2 separate regions of the Homo sapiens genome follow, and region 1 is linked to region 2. The links come from fine-mapping of genetic effects on gene expression. A gene starts in region 2. The other region holds a variant in brackets. All regions are shown on one strand. Distances are between the middles of the regions.

Evidence for each region. PIP is the estimated chance that this variant, and not a neighbour inherited with it, causes the effect.
Region 1: its variant is the best candidate, but not a certain one, in a credible set for the expression of IGSF9 in nucleus accumbens (GTEx, PIP 0.56).

Annotation. Positions count from the first base shown.
Region 1 is chr1:159,974,576-159,986,267 of GRCh38, reverse strand. LINC01133 (long intergenic non-protein coding RNA 1133) reads right to left here. Exons shown (of 3, transcript NR_038849.1): 2 at 9,156-9,624; 3 at 7,182-7,668. It also overlaps a transcript of SLAMF9 not described here. Among named protein-coding and RNA genes, the nearest start is that of LINC01133, 19 kb to the right of the region's middle. The variant C/T (reference allele first, on the strand shown) is at 6,698.
Region 2 is chr1:159,938,870-159,950,561 of GRCh38, reverse strand. IGSF9 (immunoglobulin superfamily member 9) reads left to right here and starts at 4,949. Exons shown (of 21, transcript NM_001135050.2): 1 at 4,949-4,989; 2 at 6,934-7,165; 3 at 7,411-7,599. The coding sequence starts at 7,108. It overlaps LOC124904438 (a long non-coding RNA gene), which reads right to left and starts at 9,193. Exons shown (of 3, transcript XR_007066684.1): 1 at 9,116-9,193; 2 at 4,110-4,410. RefSeq lists an enhancer at 4,326-4,826 and a silencer at 4,669-4,963.

The sequences.
Region 1 (11,692 bases), 36 kb before region 2:
GCTCCTGGCAACCTTAACCTACTTTCTGTCTTTGTGAAATTGACTAGTCAAGGTACGTCATATAAATGGAGTGATACAATATTTATCCTTTTGTGTCTGGCTTTTTTGCTTAGCATTAGGTCCTCAAGGTCCATCCGTGTTGAAGCATTTATCAGAATTTCCTTCCCTTTTAAGGCTGAATAATATTCAATTGTATGTATATACCACATCCTGTTTATCCATCTGTCGAAGGACACTGGGTTGTGTCTACCTTTTGGCTATTTTGAATAATGCTGCTATGAACATGGGTGTACAAATATCTGTCTGTGTCCCTGATTTCAATTCTCTCGGGTATATACTCAATAATGAAATTGCTGGATCTTATGGTAATTCTATTTTTAATTAGAAACACAGTTTTTAGTGGACATTGTGAGGAACATCAAGAGGTAGAGGCCGAGAACCTGTGAAATGCACATCACGCAGCCTAGAGGCCTCTTAGGTAGAAATTGCACACTTGTCCCTGAGGGCAGCAGCTGTTCTTCTGCCTCTGCTGCATCTTCACGCCTACAAAGTGGAGAATGGGCTGAACCCGCATCTCCTTTACTTTCAGGCACTGGGTGGAGAGCTCCACTCTCAAGAATAATGGCAGTGGCCAAAGTCCCTTTCAGTCCCCCTAGACCCGGGCTCGTGGCTGAGATACCTGAGTAAGATTCTGGAGCCCTTGAAGCTTGCCTAGCTTTGTTATTGTTGCCATCCTTTGTCATCAGTATCACTGCAGTGATTGGCAGTGGAGCCTTTCATAAGGAAGCAGACCATGTGTGTGGTCTTTAGGGACTATCAGGAGAAGGGAGTTGGGAGGTTTCTTCTGGTTTAGGGCCACTCTTGGACAGAAAGTGAATGGGCAGGGCCAGAGAAGGAAAGAAAGCAAGCTCAGTTCCTGATGGCTCCTGAGGCTCAACAGCTATAAATCCTGTGCACGGTCACCAGACAGAGTTAAATTTCCTGTTCCAAAGAGGCACCCAAATGATAGAAGTTCAAGCACCATGGCAAACTGTTGGATAAACATTTTGGAGCAGATGGTAGGGATTAAAGGAATAGCCACCTCATGGAGTGTACGTACAGGTGCCCACTGAGGCACTGTGTGGGGGTGTGGTGCTCTGAACTTATTGGACATTTAAAAGAGAAAGGAGCGATTACTTCCTTCTGTCCTGGTGCAGGGGCCTGTGTTGTCTCTGAGGCCAACTGAATTCCCTCTCTTGGTTTAGTTGTACCTGTCAGTCCAGAATTAACGGTGTGCTCGGGGATGTTCCTCAGTCAGCATTGTAGAAATTCAGAGCCCAAGGAGCAGATGAGTACCGGGGTGACTGTAAAGAAGTCAGTGTATGACATCACTTTCCCTAAATGTGTAGGGCTTGCTTCTAGACTGTTCTATTCAGTAACGGGTCAGAGACTCAAAAGAGCACTGTCTGAAAGAAATATAATGTGAGCAACATATAGAATTTTAAAGTTTCTAGTAGCTACACTAAAAAAAGGTGAAATTTAATTTTAATATATTTTATTTAATTGGATGTGTTAAAAATGTTATTTCAACAAATAATTAATATTAAGATTACTGAGCTATTTTACATTCTTTGTTTTGTACTCAGTATCTGAATTTTGGTGTGTTATTTTACACATACAGCATACCTCAATTCGGAAAATCCACACCTGTGTCGAATGGTCACATGTGGCTTGTGGCTACCATATTGGACAGTGCAGCTCTAAGACATCCAAGGGTATAATAGCAAGCATTTATTGAACGATTACTATTACATGTATTGAATCAAGCAACACTCCAAGGCAGCTGCTATTTACTGAAGAATACAAGTGTATTCTTTGGTTTGTGGCCCTTTCCTCTGTCTTTAGGAAGCCAATAGCATAGCGTCTTCTGTCTCCAACTCTGCTTTCCTCTCTGCTTCTGTCATCAGGGGGCTGCATCCTGCTTTTCTCTTAGAAGGACTCTTGTGATTACATCAAGCCTACTCTGATAATCCAGGATAATCTCCCAATCTCAAGAGCCTTAATTTAATCACATCTACAAAGTCTCTTTTGCCATATAATAAAACATGGACAGGTTCCAGGGATTAGAATGTGGACATCCTGGGGGGCCATTATTCAGCCTGCAACAGAGGGTGACTTTATTTTCACAAGCATGTAAGGAAAACTCTGAGCTGAGACTGCAGTTTCTCTACTTCTTCCTTACATCATCTGTGTAACTCGGCTCATGCTGCTCTAGAAGAGACCATCTCCCCTGCTCCATCATATCTGCAGCCCTGGCTGCTGCAGGGAAAGGCACTGCCTTTCTTCTCCAGGTGTCTTTTGTTCTTCTTCCGCCCTGGCCCCTTGCTGCCATGCAGGACTCTGCTGGGAGTGACGTGGGTCTCTTTCCCTGAGAGAGCTGAAGATCTGCAAGGAGACCTTCTCCCTGCCTTTTGCTTCGCATTTTGAAGGGAGGGAGGAGACTAGCCAGAACCACTGACCAGGGGAAGCACTCTTATCCTCTTAGAAAGGACCTTAGGAATCATCTATCCCCTCCACCCCATCCCTGCCTTGCCACGAGGATTAATTGCTCTCTAAGTGCCTTGGCCAATGTTGACTTTCAGCCTAAGCTTGACCTCTCAAGCAAGTTGTTTCCTTCCTAACAATAGTATTTCAAGTGAATTCATTAAAACTTCTTAGTTGCAAGTAATAGAAACTAACTTAAATTAACTCAAGCAAAAAACAAACAAAACAAAACAAAAACAAAAAACAAACCAAGGAGTGGTCAGAAATCCACTCCTCGGGGGAATTTGATCTCTTGCTTTTCTTGGCAACTTGAGGACCCTTTTCCTAGGAAAGGGGGACTTTCCCTGTCCCCCTCTGACTTCCAGCACATAATCAGTGATTGTGACTCCAGTCCAGGTCCACTCAATACCCACTTATCATATGTGCTGCATTACAACCAACAGATGAAGAGGCACAGATGGATGCCTCTTTCATCTGGTGAACTGATAGAAGTGCTGTGATGAACCTCCACAGTAGAAGAAAAGAAAAGGATGAAAGACACATGTTGCTAATTGGCCTTAAACCTCCTCTGATGGGAACAGGAGGCAGAAGCTGGTCATGAGGGTAAGTTGATAAGAGAGGAGCCTAACCAGGGTTCTAATGAATGGCCAAGATATTGGGATATAAGCTAGAAACTCTAATGTTGATATGTTTCTTTTTTTCTTTTTTTATTTTTTTGAGACGGAGTCTCACTCTGTCACCAGGCTGGAGTACAGTGGTGCAATCTCAGCTCACTGCAACCTCTGCCTCCCGGGTTCAAGCGATTCTCCTGCCTCAGCCTCCCAAGTAGTTGGGACTACAGGCACGTGCCACCACACCCAGCTAAGTTTTGTATTTTTAGTAGAAACGGGGTTTCACCATGTTGTCCAGGATGGTCTCCATCTCTTGACCTCGTGATCCTCCCACCTCAGCCTCCCAGAGTGCTGGGATTACAGGCGTGAGCCACCGCGCCCAGCCATGTCGTTATGTTTCCTACACACATGTGTGTGTATGCATATGTACCCATATAGACATACTTAACATTACACGATGTACTATGCTAGTGTTGGAGATACAGAAATGACTTTATGCCTACCCTAAAGGCTTCCCTAAAAGACAAAGAATTGTGGGACAGTTTGATAAATGTCATAAGAGATATTAGTAAGTGCTAAAAATAGCACAAAGAGAGGCATGATTTCCTCTGCTTGGGTGTGTCCAGGAAACCTCTATCGAGAAGGGAACATTTGCATGGATCTTAATAGGAATTTAAAGATCACTGGGAGAAGTGTGTGTGTATGAGTGAGTGAGTGTGCGGCAGGAAGGGGTGATGAGAATGGAGAAAGATGTTCCAAAAAGGAGGCGTTATATGTCCACAGGCCTTGATGTGAAGCGGCATTGACGTTTAGACTAGAGTGTAGATAGTTCCATGTGGCTGTCAAGATGGGGCCTTGGGTAGGGAATAAGAGAGTGGACAGTTGAGCACAGGCTGAGTCTCAAGAGACATAAGCTTCTAATTTATCTTGTAAGTAAACAGACATCTTGGAAAGAATGGAAGCAGAGCGTGACAAGATCAGATCTGGACTTTAGAAAGGAGGAGGACTCTAACAGTGTGGAGGATGAATTGAAGGAAGGACAACTAGGGGCAGCCAGATTTGTTGAGAAGCAGAGGCCAAGACAAGATTAGACCTGCAGAGGCATTGTGGGAAACACCACACCTGTGAAGGATGAAGAGCGGGCAGAAGGAGTGGTCAGGAGAGACTTCAGACTGCAGTGCAGGTCAGACACCTGGGAAAGGAGAGCAGGCTGGGAAGAGGATCAGGTAGGATGATCCTCAAACTGTGGTGCAGCTCCAGGATGTCCCCGCCAGGCTTAGTGTCCCAGAACAGAGCTCGCCTCTTAGCGAGGCCTCACATCAGGCACAGTGGCCTGTTTCTAGCCCTGTTTCTGGCACCCTCTGTGCTCAGTCATTGGCTGGGAGCAGCATGGGGCAGTGTGAACACCCAACACAACCAAAATATAGCAGCAGGAGGCTGGAGGCTTCTTGCACCAGGTTCTCTTGAAGGGAGACCTGAGCACACTCCCTGACAGCACAGAGATGCCTGCAGCAGCACAGTCTGCTCTAAGGCCAGTCACGGGAGAATGGAAAGCAGATGGAAAAGAGGAGCTTGCCTTGTTTGCCAGCACCCCCTGGTCTGGGAAGGCTGTTTCCCCTCTGGCTTGTGAGGTTGCTGCCCTTGCTCCTTTCTTGGTTGGGGCCAGAAGTTGTCCTCCGCTTTTCTTGAGGACATCACAGGCTTGGCAGATGCAGGAGTCAGCTCAGGCTGCTGTAACACATGGCACAGACCAGGTGGCTTAAACAACAGAAGTTAATTTCCTCATATATCTGGAGGCTGGAAGTCTAAAGTCAAAGGTCAGCAGGGTTGGTTTCTTCTGAGGCCTCCCTCCTTGGCTTGTAGATGGCTGTCTTCTCCTTGTGTCTCCGCACAGTCTTCCCTCTATGTGCATCTGTGTCCTGGTTTCCTTTTCTTATAAGGACACCAATCAGAATGGATTAGGGCCCACCCTAATGGCCTTATTTTAAATTGATTACTCTTTAAAATACCCTGTCTCCAAATACAATCACATTCCGAGATACGGGGGTCAGGGCTGCAGCATAGGAGTTTTGGGGGCCACAATTCAGCCCATCACAGAAGGTAAGAGATATGCTGCCTCCACTGCCCTCTCACACATCAAGAGCCCTGGTCCCTTAGTGTATGCAGGCTTCTCCTTCCTGTGAGTTCTGCTTCTGCGTGTGACGCAAAGAAAGTCAGGTGGGTCCAAGAGATGCCAACATGCAGAGAGTGATGGAAGAGAGCAGGGAAAGCATTAGAGAGTGAACAGTAGTAAGGCTGGGCACGGTGGCTTACGCCTGTAATCCCAGCACTTTGGAAGGCTGAGGCGGGTGGATCATCTGAGATCGGGAGTTCGAGACCAACCTGACCAACATGGAGAAACCCCATCTCTACTAACAATATAAAATTAGCCGGGCATGGTGGCGCATGCCTGTAATCCCAGCTACTCAGGAGGCTGAGGCAGGAGAATCACTTGAACCTGGGAGGCGGAGGTTGCGGTGAACTGAGATCGCACCATTGCACTCCAGCCTGGGCAACAAGATTGAAACTCCATCTGAAAAAAAAAAATAGAGTGAACAGTAAGCATTAAATAGGGCTGAGCTCTGACATGAGGTGAAATTAAACCCACTTTAGCCCTTGCTCCTCAGGGATCTCTGTTGCCCATCAGTGAAGGAAGTGGGTGGGCACTTGGGCAGTGAGGTTGGGTGTCTTTCTACCACCAGTCACTTTCAGCCATGAGGTAAAGGAACGAAAGGTACAAGGCTGGTGGAGGGCGTCGGGGGATGTGGCAGAGGGGAAGAGGCTGGGAAGAGGGGTCTCAGGAGGATGGGCACCAAGCCAGATGAGAAGGCGAGTCCCCCTGACAGGAGCAGGTCCAAGTGCACAGCCCACCGTGGGGAGGTGCCTGCAGCCCAGAAGTCCCTCTTGGGAGTGTGTTCAGAATCATTGTTCTGTTGGCTGGAGAGGGATGAACCCTCCACAGCAGAAGAAAAGGAAAAGGATGGAAGACACACGTTGCTGATTGGCCTTAAACTTCCTTTGCCTTGGTTTTGCTCAGAGCATCCCAATCTTCTCCCCGACCCTAATTTTCCTCTAACTCCCCACGCCGATTCTGTGCTCCATCCAGACCTCACCACCCAAAGTTTCCTAAAACGTCCTGTGATTTTCAATCTCTGAGCCAGTTCCTTCATGTACAGTTTATTAATTTATGGCTGCCTCCAAATCCCTTCTCAATGCTATTGGTGAGACCTCCAACAGGATGGGCTATCTCCCTTCTTTAAACTCTCACAGCAACCTGACACTTCGCTTTGTGTCTCCATACGTGTTTTGTCCTGCATGGCTAGACTGTCTGGGGACAGAACTGTTTTATGCAACTCTATGTCTTCAGTTTTACTTACATATAGTAGAATTAAATACATCTTTGTTGAGTTGAATTAAAGTGAAAAAAAAAAAAAAGATTGCCTTACGTTATTTTCTCTAGGTAATTCATGGTAAAGAGTCTCATGAAGATCTCTTCCAGTCAAGAAAATATTTTTTTTGTCTAC[C/T]GTACCTTGACTTTTAACTATTGCCTTTTGAAGCTCAGATTGATTTAAAGCACTTGGCTTAAATGCTAAAGCTTGCACATTTGCCAACATGAGCTCATAGTTTCATCTAAGCCTGCTTACCCAAGGAGATTTACATTTTTTCTGAACATTTATAAACATCTTAGACCAGTTTCTAAACAGAGATATGATGTGATTTCTTCTTATTTTCCTACCAGTGTTTGCATATTAAAAGAACTTGGGGAACATAGTGGCAACCAAAAAGACATCAGCGGAATTTCATGTGTGTTGGGGTGGTGTCCTAGAGAGAGGTGATTAAGAAGGGCTTTCCCAAAACAACTCAAACCGTACCACCTAGGTAGCCTTATGCTGCTCCTGCTTTGTAACCATTATTACAACCTTTCCTTACCTCCACCACTTTTGCAGGGTTTTCTGCTCATGCTAAGTGATCCACACATTCAGAAAATTGAACATTACCAAATAGAAGTTAAAATGAAACAATGCCAACAGCATTGACGAGACACATTTAATAACATACAAAGCTAATTTAGTGCCTCATAAAGAATAAGGATAAATGGATCCCTATGCCCTCAAACCAAAAACAATCTTTATTTTCACATAGTTGAATTAAGTATTTCTGGGGCCAGTGTGGGGGAAAGATGGTATGGAATGGGAGAATCCATCCTTCCTGCAAGAGGAGAAAGCCAGGGACTACTCTGTCTATATTTTTACAAGGAAATTCTTCCTTTGTTTCTAGTAAACAAACTCAGAGGCACTGATGTTGGGCTGGAACAAGGACTTTCTGGTGGGGAGGGCAGCTGGACTGCATAGACTTGAGGTTCCATTTTTGAGGTTCACCTTGCCTTGGGGTCTGTCCTTGGTTACCACCACTGATGTCTACCATGCTGGACTTTGGAGAACTTTGCTTCCACTTCAGCACACCTTGGTACCTTCAGTCAAGCTTTTATTAAAGACTAGGGAAAACAAAAGGGCAATTTAAATAAGAAAAGAGTGCCAGGAATCTGTCTTATAAGATACAGTTTATGCATGCTCATCTGTCTCCCTTCTTAGCTGCTGGCCTGTCTGGATGCCCTCTTAGCATCTGTGACCCAGGTGTCTACATTTGTCCATCTACCTACCTTAAGGTAGAGCCAGGTTCTGGAGATATTAGGAAATCTTCCTATGTGCCTGAGACCCACCTCGTCAGATCTGGAGTCCTGTCTAAAGCCACCTTTTTCCTAACAACCCCAAAGTCAAGGTCTCCTTTATGAAGTTCCCCTCGCCTGCCCCCATCTCCCACCCCTAAGTCTTGTCCTGCTTGCTTCTTCTTGGAGGACAAGGTGGTTGTCACTGAGGTCTCACCTGGCCCTTTTGTCTTGTTCCTCCTGAAGTGGGGAGGGGTATGACATGGGCTCACTCTGTGGAGACCCTGAAGCCAGGATGGCCAGGATGCAGTGCAGAAATGTTCCTATGGAACTTAATAGGAACTATGACCTGGTGGGGTGGGGCAGTGGTGGGGGCTGGCAGTTTTCAAATCTGTGTAGGAAGAGGGAGGAAGAAAGGCCACAGATCCTCCTGTATGCACCAGTCCCACTTCTAACCACTCTTTCTGTCAGGAGGTCCTTATTATCTAATCTCACCCCCTCCCTTTTCCCCATGGCAGGTCCCTGTGATGGAAAGTTTGGCGAGCCTTTGATCTCATGTTCCTGCATGTCTCCATGAGTACGCCTATGTTCATGTCCCATTCTGACCACCTGGGCTGTTTGGAAATGTCTGTCTGAGGGGACAGCTGTCTGGCTGAGGTGTAGATGGCTGGCTCCATCTTACTGAGCTCAGGCTTCTGTGCCTGTCTGCACAGGGCTGTGGTCTGGGTCTAGGCGAGAAAGCCTCAGGGTCCTTTCCCTCCCCAGTTCCTGGTGGCAAACATCTATGCCTGGTCACGTTCCGCTTTTCTTTGGTCATTTTCTTCCATTTACACCAGGCTTCTCTACTGAGTGAAGTCCTAGCCCTACCAGCAGTAGCTGAAGGATGCTGTCACTGGCCCTATAGGGAGCTAACCCTGCAGGGACATGACTAATCTTTTCTATAACTGGGGAGATGGCATGGGAGGAGGGTAGAAAAGAGACTAGAACCAATTTCTAGCAGAAAACTCTTCTTTTTCTCCTGAAGTAAAGACTACATCTGCTAACCTCACGTCTTCCAGTACTACCTGGGAACTCAGACTGTAACTACAAGGATATCAACTCAGCCATTCTTTGTCTCTCTCTAATCTTCTGCCTTCAACAAAAATGCAGGACTAGGGAAAGCAAAAAGGAAACTTAAAAAAGAAATGAGTGCCAGGAATTTGTCTTATAAGATAGGGTTTATCCTTCCTCATCTGCCTTTCTTCTTAATTTCTGACCTGTCTGGATGTCATCTTAGCATCTGTGACCCAGGTAGCTATACTTGTCCATCTACCTACCTTAAGGTAGAGCCAGGCTGTGGTGAGATTAGGAAATCTTCCCGGTCATGTTGTTCATCTTTTCACCTACTCTCCCCCTAGCTACAATCTTCTTTTCTTTCTTTCTCTTTCTTTCTTTCTTTCCTTCTTTCCTTCTTTCCTTCTTTCTTTCTCTTTCTTTCTTTCTTTCTTTCTTTCTTTCTTTCTTTCTTTCTTTCTTTTTTTCTTTCCTTCTTTCTTTCTCTTTTTTTTTAGAGAGATGGGGGTCTCAATATGTTGTCCAGGCTGGACTCAAACTCCTGGGCTCAAGGAATCTGAATAGTTAGGACTACAGGTGCTGGGCTCTGGATTCTTGATACTGTCTTCTACTCTTTACCTCCTCCCAACCATTCCCATTGTATACTGAGAAACCCAGTTCCTTAGAATCTTCAGTTGCAGGGAATGGATCCATTCTCAGGTAACTTCAAGAAAGAGAGGTTTATTGAAAGCTCTATGGGGAAATAAAGAAGATTGGAATATTTTATTTTATTTAGCTTTTTAATTGAAACATATATGTGAATATAGTAAATGCATTAAATTTTTTAAAAAAGAACAAAGAAGCACATTGTGAAAATTGTTTCTCCCTCACCCTAGCCCATGAGTTGGTTACCCAGTCTTCCCTTACATTCTAAACATTTTATATGCATATGCAAGCATACATATGTGTGTGAATATGTATGCATGTTTCTTTTTATATACAAATGGAGGTGCACTGTACACATGGCTTCACATGTTGCTTTTAGTGTTTTTCACTAACACTTTATCTTGGGCTCATTCCATACAGGTATTTATGGATCTACCTTGTTCTTTCTCATGGCTACATTATATTTCATTATATGGCTGGACCATAATTTATTTAACAAATTCCTTATTAATAACCATCTTAGTTGTTTTTGCCCTTGTGCTATTTTAAGCCATATATATTATATAGATATTCTTTATATATAAAAAGCAACAGGTTAAAAACAACTTACACACACACACACACACACACACACACACACACACTACAACCTATACTCCTTCCTTGAGTTCTGGAGTGCTCCATCCACACAGCTGGCTTCAAGCACCACCAAATGTAAATGACTCCCAAGTCTCTATCTCCAGCCCAGAACAGATCCTGAAGTTACATATAGACTTTAACTGAGGGATATCTCCACCTGGCCATGCCAAGAACATCTCATCTGAAGATGGACACATTTTAACTTACATTTTCCTACAGATCAGCGTCTTGCCCTCAATTTCCTATTATCCTGAATTCCTCCCTCTCTTTTGCCCCTCACCCTCATCAAATCTTCAAGTCTGTATCATCAAGTCTTATAGATTCTGCCTCCTTAGTGTCACTCTGATCTACGCCCTCCTTTTCACCTCACTGCCATTGTTTCAGCTGACACCTCTCTCTCTTGCCCAGGCAATTGCAATAGGCTCAGTCTTTTTCTCACCCTGTTCTGATCATTCTTTACTTGGCAGCCATCAGATCTCGAATGCAAGTTTGATTCAATTACTCCCAATTTCAAATCCCTCCTTTCCTTTCCCACTGCTCTGGTGTAGTTTGAGTTTGTCTGATTACTGCCTCCCCAGGCTTACTTCTTAGCACATCCTCTTCACAGCCTGCCTCTCCAGCCATGCCACACTCCACCAGTTCCCAGACTACTCCTGGCTGTGTCCTTGCTCATGTGGCTACATCTTGAAACAGCCTCTCCCTACATCTCCCTTATACTGAATACTTATCTTGCAAGATGAGGTCAAAGCAATCTCACCTCTTTGGGTCTCCTCCCCAGGTAGAACTAAGCAGTTCCTCTCTGTGCCCCCTCTGTCACACTTTATCTCTTTTTTCGCTTTCTACACTATAAACTAGCATATATCCGAGGGCCTGGCATGTAGAGGTACTCAATAAATGATTGATGAATGAATAAGTCAATGAATGAATAATGAATAAATCCTGCTTCTCTGCCTTCCATTGAATCAGTACCTTTGTTAAAGAGATGAGATCTCTGACGTACATATGAGTACTGAGACTCCCAGGGAGTTATCTATGTTACTGCTTGGGGAAGGAGTTCAGACCACACTTGGAAACCCAAGTGCTCTGTGGTTGGTGGCAATAGAGAAACCAGGTTTGAACACCCGGGCCTATGCTCAGGGACCTTGTGATCCTCATAAGTTCCAGGAGTGATGGAAGGTGCCTATGGTCCAGGAAGAGGCTGATTACACCTGTGTTCTTCTTGCTCATAATGGGAATGAGAAGGGAACTCTTCCATGAGCCCCATTTCTGCCATCCTTCATCATGATCCTCAGGCTTGACTCCCAGCCATGGCTGTTGGCTCTTGAGGCTACCTGACCTATGGGAGATTCCATACCTGGGGAGAGACCCTTGTCCTGCCCAATCAGGACAGAGAACGTAAGTTTAGGATGAGAACAGACAGGACGGGGCCTTTGCATGGCTGGGGTGGAAACTGAAGCCCCTGCTGGGGATCGGTATTGGTGTGGGGCATCGATGGAGTCTGGACCTCTGGGAGCCT
Region 2 (11,692 bases):
CTGTGATGTATGGCTGGGAGCCTAGGTGACATTTTGGAGCTCTGGGCTTTGATCTGCTACTCGCCTCTGGCCTGTGACCCTGTGTTCAGCAAACTTCCATTGAGCCACAGCCTCTTTCTCCAAGAAGTGCACACTGGAAGAGAGAAGCAGGCAGAGAGGCAGCTTGGAGCTCCTACAGAGACACAGTTAGGCAAGCGACTTGGTGCCACAGAGACAGGGTGGGTTGGGGGCCCTGGGGAGTTTCAGAAGAGGTGTCTGAAGGGTGGGGAGAGGGCCGCATGGCAGGAGGCATGCCTAACATTGCTGTGGGTCTCTTCTTCCTCTTTGTTTTTGAGGGGGAGGATGCTGATCTCCAAAGTATCTTCTAAAAAAGGAACAAGAAGTATGTGCAGGGGTCAGTGGAATGCATTCAACTGGGCAACCAATGAGACCAAGGATACCTTCCTTTTAGGAAAGTAGAACACATGGGCTGGCACAGGACCACCCAGGAGGAGAGTCTTGAGAGCGGCGTGGGGCAGGGCTGGAAGCCAAGAGTAGGGGTCTCCCTAGGTATTTGTGCAGGAGATGGAGCCCCTTGGGGCTTGGGAAGGAGGTAGTAAGGTTGGGAAACCAGCCCCAAGAGCTCCTAGTGCTGGTAAACTGGTCCCCTCTACTTTCTGAGGGCCTGAACCCTTGTCCCTCTGGAAGGCAGTCCCTTCTTGAGGCTGGTTCTCTGGGCTTCCCTTAGGCCCTGAGCAGTCTTGCTTCCAAAAAAGGCCAGCAGCCCCCAATCCCTTTGATTCCTTTTATATCTTTCCTAGGAGGCACCACTGCAGGGATGGGGACTGACTGGAAAGGCCACCTTGAGTCCATCTTGCACATAAAGAGGCAGCTCATTTCTCATGTTATTGCAGGATTGAATTCATAGAAAGTAAACAAAAGGATGAATAAATAAAGGAATGAATGTATGATAGGCCCAGGGATTTCCCTGGAAGTTGGCAAAGTTCCTTCTTCTTACAGCCGATCTCTGAGCAGAGAAGGGTTGAGGCCTCAAAAGAGGCCGAGCTTCTGGAAGAGGAAGGATGAGATCTTAAAGAAAGTTGAATATAAACTCAGAGAGGCACAAGCCGCTACCTCTGCAATATGCCAGGAACTTGGCAAGCACTGGGGAGGCAGAAGAGACACCTCTGCCTTCAAGGAATGTTTTGTGGAGTGTGTAAAGATACAATAACAAGGTAGGAAAAGGGCTGGGGTGAAGGTGAGGGCGTGGTGGGAAAAGTCACGGAATGTGTCCTGAAGGGAACAGATCAACAGAAATTTGACCTGTGGCCAGCAGTGAGTCTGGAAAGGAGAAAAGGGCATTCTATCGAGACAGAAGCTAAGTGCTAAGACACTGGTATGTGAAAGAGCACAGTAGTTCTAAGGCCTGCAAAGTCATGCACACTGCGATAAAGGGATAAGTGAGAAACCAGGCTGGAAAAGTAAGCAGGGCCTTTCTGAAGCAGGAATTCAAAGACAAACAGGACAATATCCACACCCTTGTGGGGCTAAGTGTTTCATTGGGATAGAAGATAGGCACACAAAAAGTTAAATGACAATATATGAGAAACCGCACTTCTTTACGGATCTGGTAATAAGACTGCTGCTTACAGGCATGTGGTCAACAGAGTCCCTGGATGACAATCTTTTCTTTTCTTTTTTAACTCAGATATAACTTAATATATGCCTGATTAACAACATCCCTATTATCGATTATTAAAGCCACCCTTTCTATTCTAGAATATGGGATAGTTATGTGGTGCTTAATTGGTACAAGCAATGTTAACACATCAAATGTGGTCACTACTAAAAGCCCATGTGTTCCACCTTTCAGGGTTCATTTGATATCAAGTAATTCTCTGCTTATCTATAGACAATGAGAAACTTTGCTGATTAGGAACACCTGTGCTTAACGATGCCAAGCAGACATCTCTGAGGTCACACCATCTTCTTTGTGCAGGGCTATGGAGCAGCTCAGGTCCTTTCTTCCCAAGGCCTGCTGAAATATTAGGTATACACCAGGAAGACAGAACCAATAAGATAGATAGATACAGATATAGAAATATGAGATGGGATTTATTAGGGGAATTGGCTTACATGATGGTGGAGGCCAAGTCCTACAACATGCACAAAGAAGGCCCTGGGATGGCAAAAGTGTGGCTCAGTCCAACTCCAAAAGCCTCACAACCAGGGAGGCCAATGGTATAACTCACAGTCCCAAGTCTGGAGAGCCTGGAGTTTTGATGTTCAAAGGCAAGAGGAGGAGAATACCCCAGCTCTGAGAGACAGAGAGAGAGACAGAGAGAGAAAAGAAGAAGAAGGAGAAGGAGGAGGAGGAGGAGGAGGAGGAGGAGGAAAAGCAGCAGCAGAGGAGGAGGAGGAGAAGGAGGAGGAGGAGGAAAGAGGAAAGAAGAAAGCAGGAGAAGGAGAAGAAGGAGGAAGAAGAGGAGGAGGAGGAGGAGGGGGAGAGAGAGAATATTTTCTGATATCCTTGTCAGCAATTTGAAAATATGGGGGCTGCCTGATACTTAGGTTAGGTGGAATCCTCGTTGGTTGAATAAGCTTTCCCAGAGAGTAATGACTATGAATCAAGGACAACCTAGAGGAAAGTCTTTTGTTTTGAACCTCAGGGACTATTTTTTAAATCAGCTTTCACTCCTGGCACAGTGAGGGAACAAGTTATAGGGCTAGGTTCCTTTTCTTAACAAAAAATCTCCAATATACATATAAATCAGACAAAAAATGGCAATAACAATAAAAGTCACAAAATAAGTTTCCAGAAAAAAAAGGCCATATCATAAACTTTTAAAAATTGAAAACCATTTTAAATGTCATTTAACAGAAAGTTATTTTAATGTCTAAATGAGATTAGTTTATCCTCAAGAAACCACTGGAGACAGCAGTTTAGATCAAAGGTGTGGCCAATTCTAACAGCGGGGAGGGAGATCCTTCCCAATGATTGGTAAAGATCCAAAGACTAAAAAACACTTGGCTCGGCCGGGGGCAGTGGCTCACACCTGTAATCCCAGCATTTTGGGAGGCCGAGGTGGGTGGATCATGAGGTCAGGAGTTCAAGACCAGCCTGGTCAAGATGGTGAAACCCCATCTCTACTAAAAATACAAAAATTAGCCAGGCATGGTGGTGGCCGCCTGTAATCACAGCTGCTTGGGAGGCTGAAGCAGGAGAATCGCTTGAACCCGGGAGGTGGAGGTTGCAGTGAGCCGAGATTGCACCACTGCACTCCAGCCTGGGCGATAGAGTGAGACTCTGTCAAAACAAAAAAACAAACAAACAAAAAACCCGCTTCACTCTTTTACCATTTCTTCTAGCCTTGCTTCCATGCTGCATTCATTAACATGTTTCCATTATAGTCTTATCAATAGATCAGGGTATTATGTTGAAATGCATTGTTGAAAAGCTGCTACTTTGGGACTATTTGCAGGAGGGATGGTGGGAGAGACTGGCCCACTGCTCCTGCCTCTTCCCTTCCATCTCAGTCACCCAAAAGCACTAAAACCTTTACACCTGGAAGAACTGTCCAGCAGGCAGAGCTTACTAAGGATGGAATGGGTACAACAGTAGTGCTGAGCTTCCTGGCCCAGGATGTAATGAGATAGGGGCTTGGATGACTACATGGAGAAATGATGTGCCAGGGATTCTGGGGCCAAGTAGTGCTTAGGCCCATCCTGGAGGTTCTCTCATGATGCTGCAGCAGTGATTCTGTGAGTCTGATGCCTGGTGCACTCAGTTTGAGTCTTAGTACTTCGGATTGGGATGAGATCAGCACGTTGCTTTCATGGAAGGCTTCCAAGGGAGCCAACTGAATGGGAAGGACCTGGACAGGCAATGTTGCTTAAGCCGACCCAGCATCCCTACAGCATCACCAGGCTGAGGAGGTGGAATCTCTGAGGGGCAAGATATGCAAGATATCTTTGTGTCTGAGGGCGAAGCCTCCAAGGGAGTAGGTTTGATGAAGTTTGGGTTGGGTCTCAATCCAGCTCTGCCATAACCTAGTTGGGAAAGCTTGGGCCAAGTTACTTCATCTCCCTGAGCCTCAGTTTTCTCATTAGTCAAAGGGAGCTCTACTTACTTCGCAGGGTTTCTGTGAAGGTTACACAAGAGTTATAAAGCATCTAGTCCAGGGTCTGGCACCCTGCATGGGTCCAGTAAGTGATCTTGTATTTCATTCCTCCCTTTCAATCTCCCGTGTCAGGATATCTGTCGTTTCTCCCCTCTGGGCCTGTTTCTCTGGGTCGTTGGTGCCAGAGCTGCCTTGGGAGCTGACTTGGCAACCCCACGCTCAGAGCACAGCCTTCCTCAGCTGCACACGGTGGGAGGCGCCTGGGCAAGATTTGGGAGCTCGCCAATGCAGACAGGTATTTCCAGTCCTGCTAGAGAAGCAATGGGTGGAGGTAGAAATGGGGATGGGGGAGGAGATCGGATGAGCCCGGGACCTGGGTGGATCCCCTGGGAGGAGGGCGGGGAGTCATGCTCCCCGCCTGGTTCTCCTACCCCCAGGCTCAGATTTCAACCCTCGCTGCCGCCTCTGTGGCGCGCCCGTTCGGGGAGCGGAGAGGGTCGCCCGTAGGTTCCGAAAGAAGGACGGCGTACCAGTAGCCTGGCAAGGGGCCAGCTCCCGCAGCCCTGGAGCGCGAGCCGGACCCTGCTGCCCCTCTTGCTGGCGGCGGGAAGCGGCCCACCGGCCTTTCCACGCTTGGCTGTGCAGAGGTCCACGAGGGGGCGACCTGAGCCCACGTGCAGCCGAGCTCTTCCCTCCTGAAACTACAACTCCCAGGCCGCTCAGGGGTCCCGCCCGCCTCGCCGTGCCTCTGGCGGCTCCAATTGGCCGCCGCGGGAGGGGGATTGGCGGTCTCCAGGGCGACGGGAGGCGCTCGGGGCATCCGAGGCGGGGAGGCGGGTCCGCCCCCTATTGTGTAGCGGCGAGAGTGGAGCCGAGCGGTGCGGAGCAGGTGAGGGAGGGGGCGTACTGGAGGTATAGAAGTGGTGGTGCTGGTAGTGCGGAGTTATGGGGGACAGGAGAAAGCGGGGAGTTCTAGAGAGAAGTGGAATTCGTTGCAGGAGTAGAACTAGGGGAGTTCTGGGGAGTGAAGTGGAATTCTTGGCGGGTGGGTGGGAGTTCCCGGAGAACTGCAGGAGTTCTGGAGGCAATGTGGGGGAGTTCTTGGTGGGTTCTAAGAGAAAGGAGGAGTTCCAGGGGACCAGAGAATGCGAGGGAGAAAGGAATTGTTGGGGGTGGGGTATCAGAATTGTATTGTGGGCTGATGCAGGAGAATCCCAGGGAGGGGAATTATCGGGAGGAGAGGATGGGGAGAAGTGGCTGGGGGGTGGGGAGACCAGAAGGGAGTTCTTTATAGTGCAGGAGACCTGCTGCAATTGGAGATCAGGTGCGAGAAGCTGGAATTGTGGGGGGATTGTGCGTAGTAGCGATAACTGGGAAGGGAGTAATGGGAGGACGAGGGAGTGGTGTGTGGGGAGACTAGAAGGGTGAGGAAATAGTGGAGGCCGGGGGAGTTGGAAAGATATTAAGAGACTGGGAGGAATTCTAGGGATGCCTAGTTACTCAGAGTCTCGGAAAACAACCAGGAGAGAACTAGGGGGTTCCTATATACTTGGAAAAAGGTTTTTCAGGGAAGTGTGGGAGAGCTGCCTGGAGGCAGTGGGAAACAGGGGGCTTGGTTGCTAGTGAATTGCCAGAAGTTAGACATACAGGATCATTAAGTAGAGGCAAGGATCAGACTCTGTGGAGGATGTTTTATAGTCTGTCCTGAACTTTGCGGCCAAGAGTGGGTTGGAGGACTCAGAGCAGAGTCCACTTGGCAGTGCCAGGCCCTGGCATGGACCCTCTGGCTCTCTGAGACTGCCCTAGGATCTGTGGGGCTGTCAGAAGCTCCTACCCTCCATGCCCCAGGGTTAATTTTGTACACTTCAGGGACTCACAGGCTTTTTTTTGGACCATGCCTCTGGGGTTGGGGAAGAAAGAGCTTGACAAACCCTGGCACCCCGAAGATATTGGAGGGGAGTGAGTGGGAGGGATTTGGGTGAGGTCCTTGGGTGGTGGTGCCTGGCAGGGGGAGGGCTGCTTGGCAGTATCGTGAGGAAGTGGCGCCAGCTGCCAGCCCCGGGACCTGTCCAGACCTGGAGGATGCTGCCTGGATCCCCCATACTGGCAGGTGGGGGAGGCAGCTCCTCCTCTCCCAAGTGCCTGACTCACTCACTGCCAAAGCAGTGTAGGGAGACTGAATGGAGAAAGGCCTCGGGTCCTCAGCTTCCAGAGTTTTTCATAGAGGCTGGGGAAATGGGACAAGGGATTGTATCGGGGTGTCCTGGGGACCACTTTCTGAGGCTTAAGCGCCCTGGATTTGCCCTTGACTGGCTCTCTGCCCCTGAGCAGATATCCTCAGGGCCCTTATTTGTCACAGAGGGGTGAAGGCGACAGCACTGGTTCCATCTTGCTGCTATACCTTGTGAGCATCAAGAGTAAGGAAAGAAGCGAGAGCAGCCTAGGCCATGAGAGTCTTGATCTACCATACTTCCTTCAAAAATATTTTTCCAAGCATATGAGGAACCCCAGTTCTCTTCTGGCTTAGTTTTTCAAGACCCTCAGAATGCAGGCATCCCCAGAATCCTTCCACATTTCCTAAGACCTTCCCAACTCTCCCAGCCTCCCCCATTTCCTCACCTTTCTAGTATCTGCATTCAGCACTCACCATTCTCCCAGTACTCCTACCCCTGCTCTTACTCCCCAGGGCTTCAAGATCCCCCCCTTCCCCCTACCCCTCACTTAACTACACTCCTCCCTCCTTTCTCTTCCCAGTGCCTTTCTCTAATGGTGGGGTTTCTTCTGGGCTCCAGTATTGGCCAACTCTGCATGTTGCCTTGTACTTTTCATTTAGATCTGGTGGTTCTCCGGAGAGCAGCTTCCTCGGGTGTTACATGAGCCAAGCCCTCACTGTACAGAAGAGTGAGAGCTGAAACCTGTTCCCTGAGCTGATCAGAAGGACATCCCTTGGCCCCTCCATCTGGGCTCCTGTGGATAGGAGGGGCTGGGTGAGCAGGCCAGCTGGGCTATGGTGTGGTGCCTCGGCCTGGCCGTCCTCAGCCTGGTCATCAGCCAGGGGGCTGACGGTAAGCTGAGCTCTTGGGCTCAAGAATGCCCTGTTAGCCTTGGGGTGGGTATGGGGGTGTTCCTCAAGGGTTCCTCTTTGAGCATGTGAGGGCAGGGGAGGAATAGGGCTGGTTCTGGAGAAGCTGAACTGGGGGTTTCTCCAGTCACCCAAAGTCCTAAGGTGCCTACAGAGATACTGATGGCACTCCCCCTCCCAGCACTGACCCTAGCCCCCCGTTGTGCCCTCATGCCACCCATCATGCAGGTCGAGGGAAGCCTGAGGTGGTATCGGTGGTGGGCCGGGCTGGGGAGAGTGTGGTGCTGGGCTGTGACCTGCTGCCCCCGGCCGGCCGGCCCCCCCTGCATGTCATCGAGTGGCTGCGCTTTGGATTCCTGCTTCCCATCTTCATCCAGTTCGGCCTCTACTCTCCCCGAATTGACCCTGATTACGTGGGTAAGAGTTCTCCTCAGGTGGGAGGTAGGGAGGTATCAGCAAGAAAGGTGGGCTGGGTAGAGTCGCACAAGGCCTCCTATGAACGGCTTTGTCCCTGCTCTGATCTCATCTCCAGCTCTGCTGCCTTAACTCTGCTTAATAAGCATGGCTGTGCTCCCAAGCAGTGTTAATTCATTGAAAGATTCATTCATTTACACACACACACACACACACACACACTCACACTCTTATAGCTGTGCTATTTAGGACTCCACGTGGTCTGTTCCAAAGGAGATCCTGCAGCCCTATTCCAAATATCCATTCTAATTCTGTAACTGCTTTTTCTACATCTCATCATGAAACCTCCCAGACTTCATCCTGATCTGTAGTCTCCCCTCTTGGCCCTGCCTTGGTCCTGGCTCTACTATCTGCTCACTCCTCTGCGCTCTCCCCCTTCCTCATCGTCTTAAATGCTAGTTCAGGGGTTCAAGTCTTCTAGGGAGTGGGCTGATGGGGCAGCAGGGTAGGTGCGGCTGTGACCTCTCTGCTTTTCCAGGGACACTCAGTCTGCTTCTGAGTAGAGAAGCACAGGTGTACAGAGAGGGTGGCTGGGGAGGGCCCAGGATCCCCAAAGGTCAGTGACTGGATGGGGCTGGCCTGGGTTGCTGCTTTAGGTGGCACCTGTTGGGACTTAAAATCGTGTGTAGCCTCCCTGGGCGCCTTCTGCTGCACCCCAGCTGGCTCCCTAGAATGGCTACAATGGCTCTGCTTCCTCCTAATCCCGGATGGAGCCTTAATCTAAGCGGTTTAGTGCCAGGTCTCAGAGGGCAGTCTGCAGGAGGCCCTAAGGACAGGTCTGGGCTATGGGGCGAGAGAGAGTCTTGTTGCCTCCTCTTCAGAGGGGAGACCCAGGAAAGGCCACCTGGGAGGATGTTGATGGGGAGACCCCCACCTTTTCCCTCTTTAGTTTGAATCCTGAGGGAAACCCCGGGATTGGCTGAGCCTTGCCACAGGGCGGGCTGAGCAGAGAGGGGAGGAGGTGCAGGCAGGTGATGCAGAAGGGAAGTTTCTTTTCAAACTGGGGGCAGTTATTGGCAAACAGCCTGGTGGGAGTGTATGTGTCTACACAAGCCCTGTGGGAATGGATGAAAGCGGGCCCCAATTAGCACCAGTGGAGAAAAAAACGGCTGTGCCCACCAGCCCTCCCTCCCTGCCTCCGCCTGCCCAGGCCTGGGAGGGGTCTCGGGCTGCCGGGCTGAGGCTGGACAGATTCATAATGTTGCCTGACTGAGGGCAAGGCAAGGGGAGGTGGAAGAGGGAGGGGCTTTTCCTGGGACTCCACCAGGGAGACTTGAAGCTCTTCCTTCTCTCCAGCTTGTGTCCTGCCTTGAGGTCCCTCAGGCCTGAAGCCACTGGATGGTTAGCAACTTTGTCTACCTGTGGGTCTTCTGTCTGTGCTGTTGCTTGAGCTACAGGGGCTGTGAGCAGTAGCCTCTGGGACTTACTGTCTGCTCCTATCCTTTGTTCACACCCCTACCTCCGTCTGGAGCTCTTGGTCAGGCCAGAGCCGGCTGAGGGAGTTGGGACCTGAGGGAGGCCCCTGAGCCCATTAACCCTTTTACTGCCTCACAGTGTGGAAGGGGCCTCTCAGCCTTTGTGTAGGGGACTCGGAACTGCAGTTGCTAAGCAACAGGAGGTAGAGGTTGCTAAGGACAATGCTCTTCTGTCATAAGCCCTCTGGGCAGTGAAGGGGAGATGGGTCGGGGACTGTTGTGGGGCTGGTGGCCTAGAATGTGTGCGGAACCCTGAGAGAGACTGTTGGATTAGGGACCACACAGAAGGGAAGGCTTCCCATCTTTGAGGACTCTAGAAGCATCTAGTAGAGGAGACTGGATTTATCAACGATGCCATGGAGTGAAAGCAATATAAAACAAGCTAGGACTAAAGAGGAGGATTCAGTTAGCTGCTGTGTGTAAAGCGCCCCAGCCTGTGCCTGCACAGTGCCTGTGTGGTGTGAACCCATGACCAGGCCTCTGGAGGGAAGGAAGGTTAGGCTTAGTGGACACCAGCTTTCCTAAGGTGGGTCTTAGACCAACTCATTAAAATGGCAGGATGGGCTTTTGTGCTGTATTTCTTGGGATTTTCAAGATGCCCCACACAGCAGAAGGGATGTGCATTTTTTTCTCTGCCCTGAGTTGTTTGATAAAAATCAGTGACCTCGTTCTCCACTTAGAACTCCCCTGCTTGCTCTAGTCACCTCCCCTCACCACCTTTTATTCTTAATCCTCTGCCCAGTCACAGCTTCCCAGAAGCCTTCCTTACTCCTCTTGCTTCATAGTGCAATGTCTGGGCGCAGTTAGCACCATTTTTTGAACTTCTTTGTGGATGTGTGGACGTGAACTTGCCCATTTAGGTGACTGTGGGTTCCCTGCCTTCCGAGAGCTTAAGAGAGCAGAGACTGTGTCTCCTGTTTTCTTCACACGCCGCTGCATATGGGAAGATCTGAAGTCAACAGGCTTTAGCCCTGCAGGTGGAGGGAGGCCTCCAGGAGGTGGGCCCAGGACTCAGGAGGACTCAGGGCTGCCCTGCTGGCGATCTTCCTGTTCTGTAACACTACAGGTCTAGCAGTCCAGCTGTCACAGAAAAGCTAGGACATGCAGTATGCTTCTTTGGATATTCTGAGTAACATTTGGACTGTTACCCATTGGCTACCAGCATCTCCCAAGTGAGAATACATAGATTACCCCCAGTGCCCTGAACAGCACTCGGTCCTAACACCCGTGTCCATGGAAAGCACGCCGCGTCTGGAGAAAGAAGCCTGGCTTTGTCACTTACTAGCCATGTGATTTTGGAAAGAAACTTAACATTAATTCCTTCAGCTACAATGGAATTCTTGGGAGGATTAAATATGGTGACAACGCCTAATATTAGATGGCCTGTATTCCACACTCAATCTTCCTTCCCTCTTCTTCCTTCTTTGTAGAGCTATAATGAAAAGTATCATGTGGGACACAGAAGAGGTTGCAGTCTGGGGTCTGCAGGGCTTAGCGGCCAGGCAGATTAGCTTTCTTGAGGAATCCTGACAGTGGGTGGAAGGGTATGATGATGTTAAATATTTACCCGCTGGGCCTAGTCTTATCTCCGGGGTGGGGATTTCAACACCTAGCCCTTTAAGCAGGTCCACCCATCCTAGAGAATCCACACCCTGGAACTCATTCTAAGTAGAAAAAGACTCTTGGCTAAGATCACAAAGCCTGCCTCAACTTGATCCTTCTCTTCTTTCTGAAATAGATTTTCTTATTTCTGAAACAGATCACTCTAGAGGTAGAATGGAAGCAAACTGGAGGGGCTGAGCACTTTCACAGCTTCAGAATTTCTAGCATTAGGAAGAGCTGGAGTGGACACTATGCAAAGGGACTTGGAGCTGCATTTGCAAACAACATAAGATTAAGAAAATGCAGCCAGGCACAGTGACTCACAGCTTAATCCCAGCGCTTTGGGAGGCTGAGGCAGGAGGATCCCTTGAGGCCATGAGTTTGAAACCAGCCTGGGCAACATAGCAAGACCCCTCTCTTCAAAAATTAAACAATTAGCCAGGCATGGTGACACGTGCTTGTACTACTAGCTACTTGAGAGGCTGAGGCAAGAGGATCGATTGAGGCCAGGAGTTCGAGGCTGCAGTGAGCTACAATCAAACCACTGTACTCCACCTGGGCAACAGAGTGAGACCCTGTCTCTAAAAAAAAAGAAAGCTCCATTTGTTCATAGCAGAGGTCAAGGTGGGGATGAGCAATGTGATGTAGAGGGGAGGAGGCTGGAGGCAGGGAGACTGGCAAGTAGGCTGTTGGAGAAACCCAGGTGAGACATGCCACAGGTGTAAAGGTGAGGACAGCAGAGAAGGGGAAATGTTTAGGAGGTAGGATTTGAAAAACCTAATGAGCAAGTAGATATGGGAGGTAATCGAGGAATCTAGGAGATGCCAGGTTCCTGATAAGGTGACTTGGTGTGTGGTGGTGCAGGAAGAGAAAAGGAAGGTGACGTGTGATCAGTTTAGGGACAGGGTCAGGACTTGAGTGCAGCTTTCTGATTTCAAATCTAGAGCTCATTTATTTGT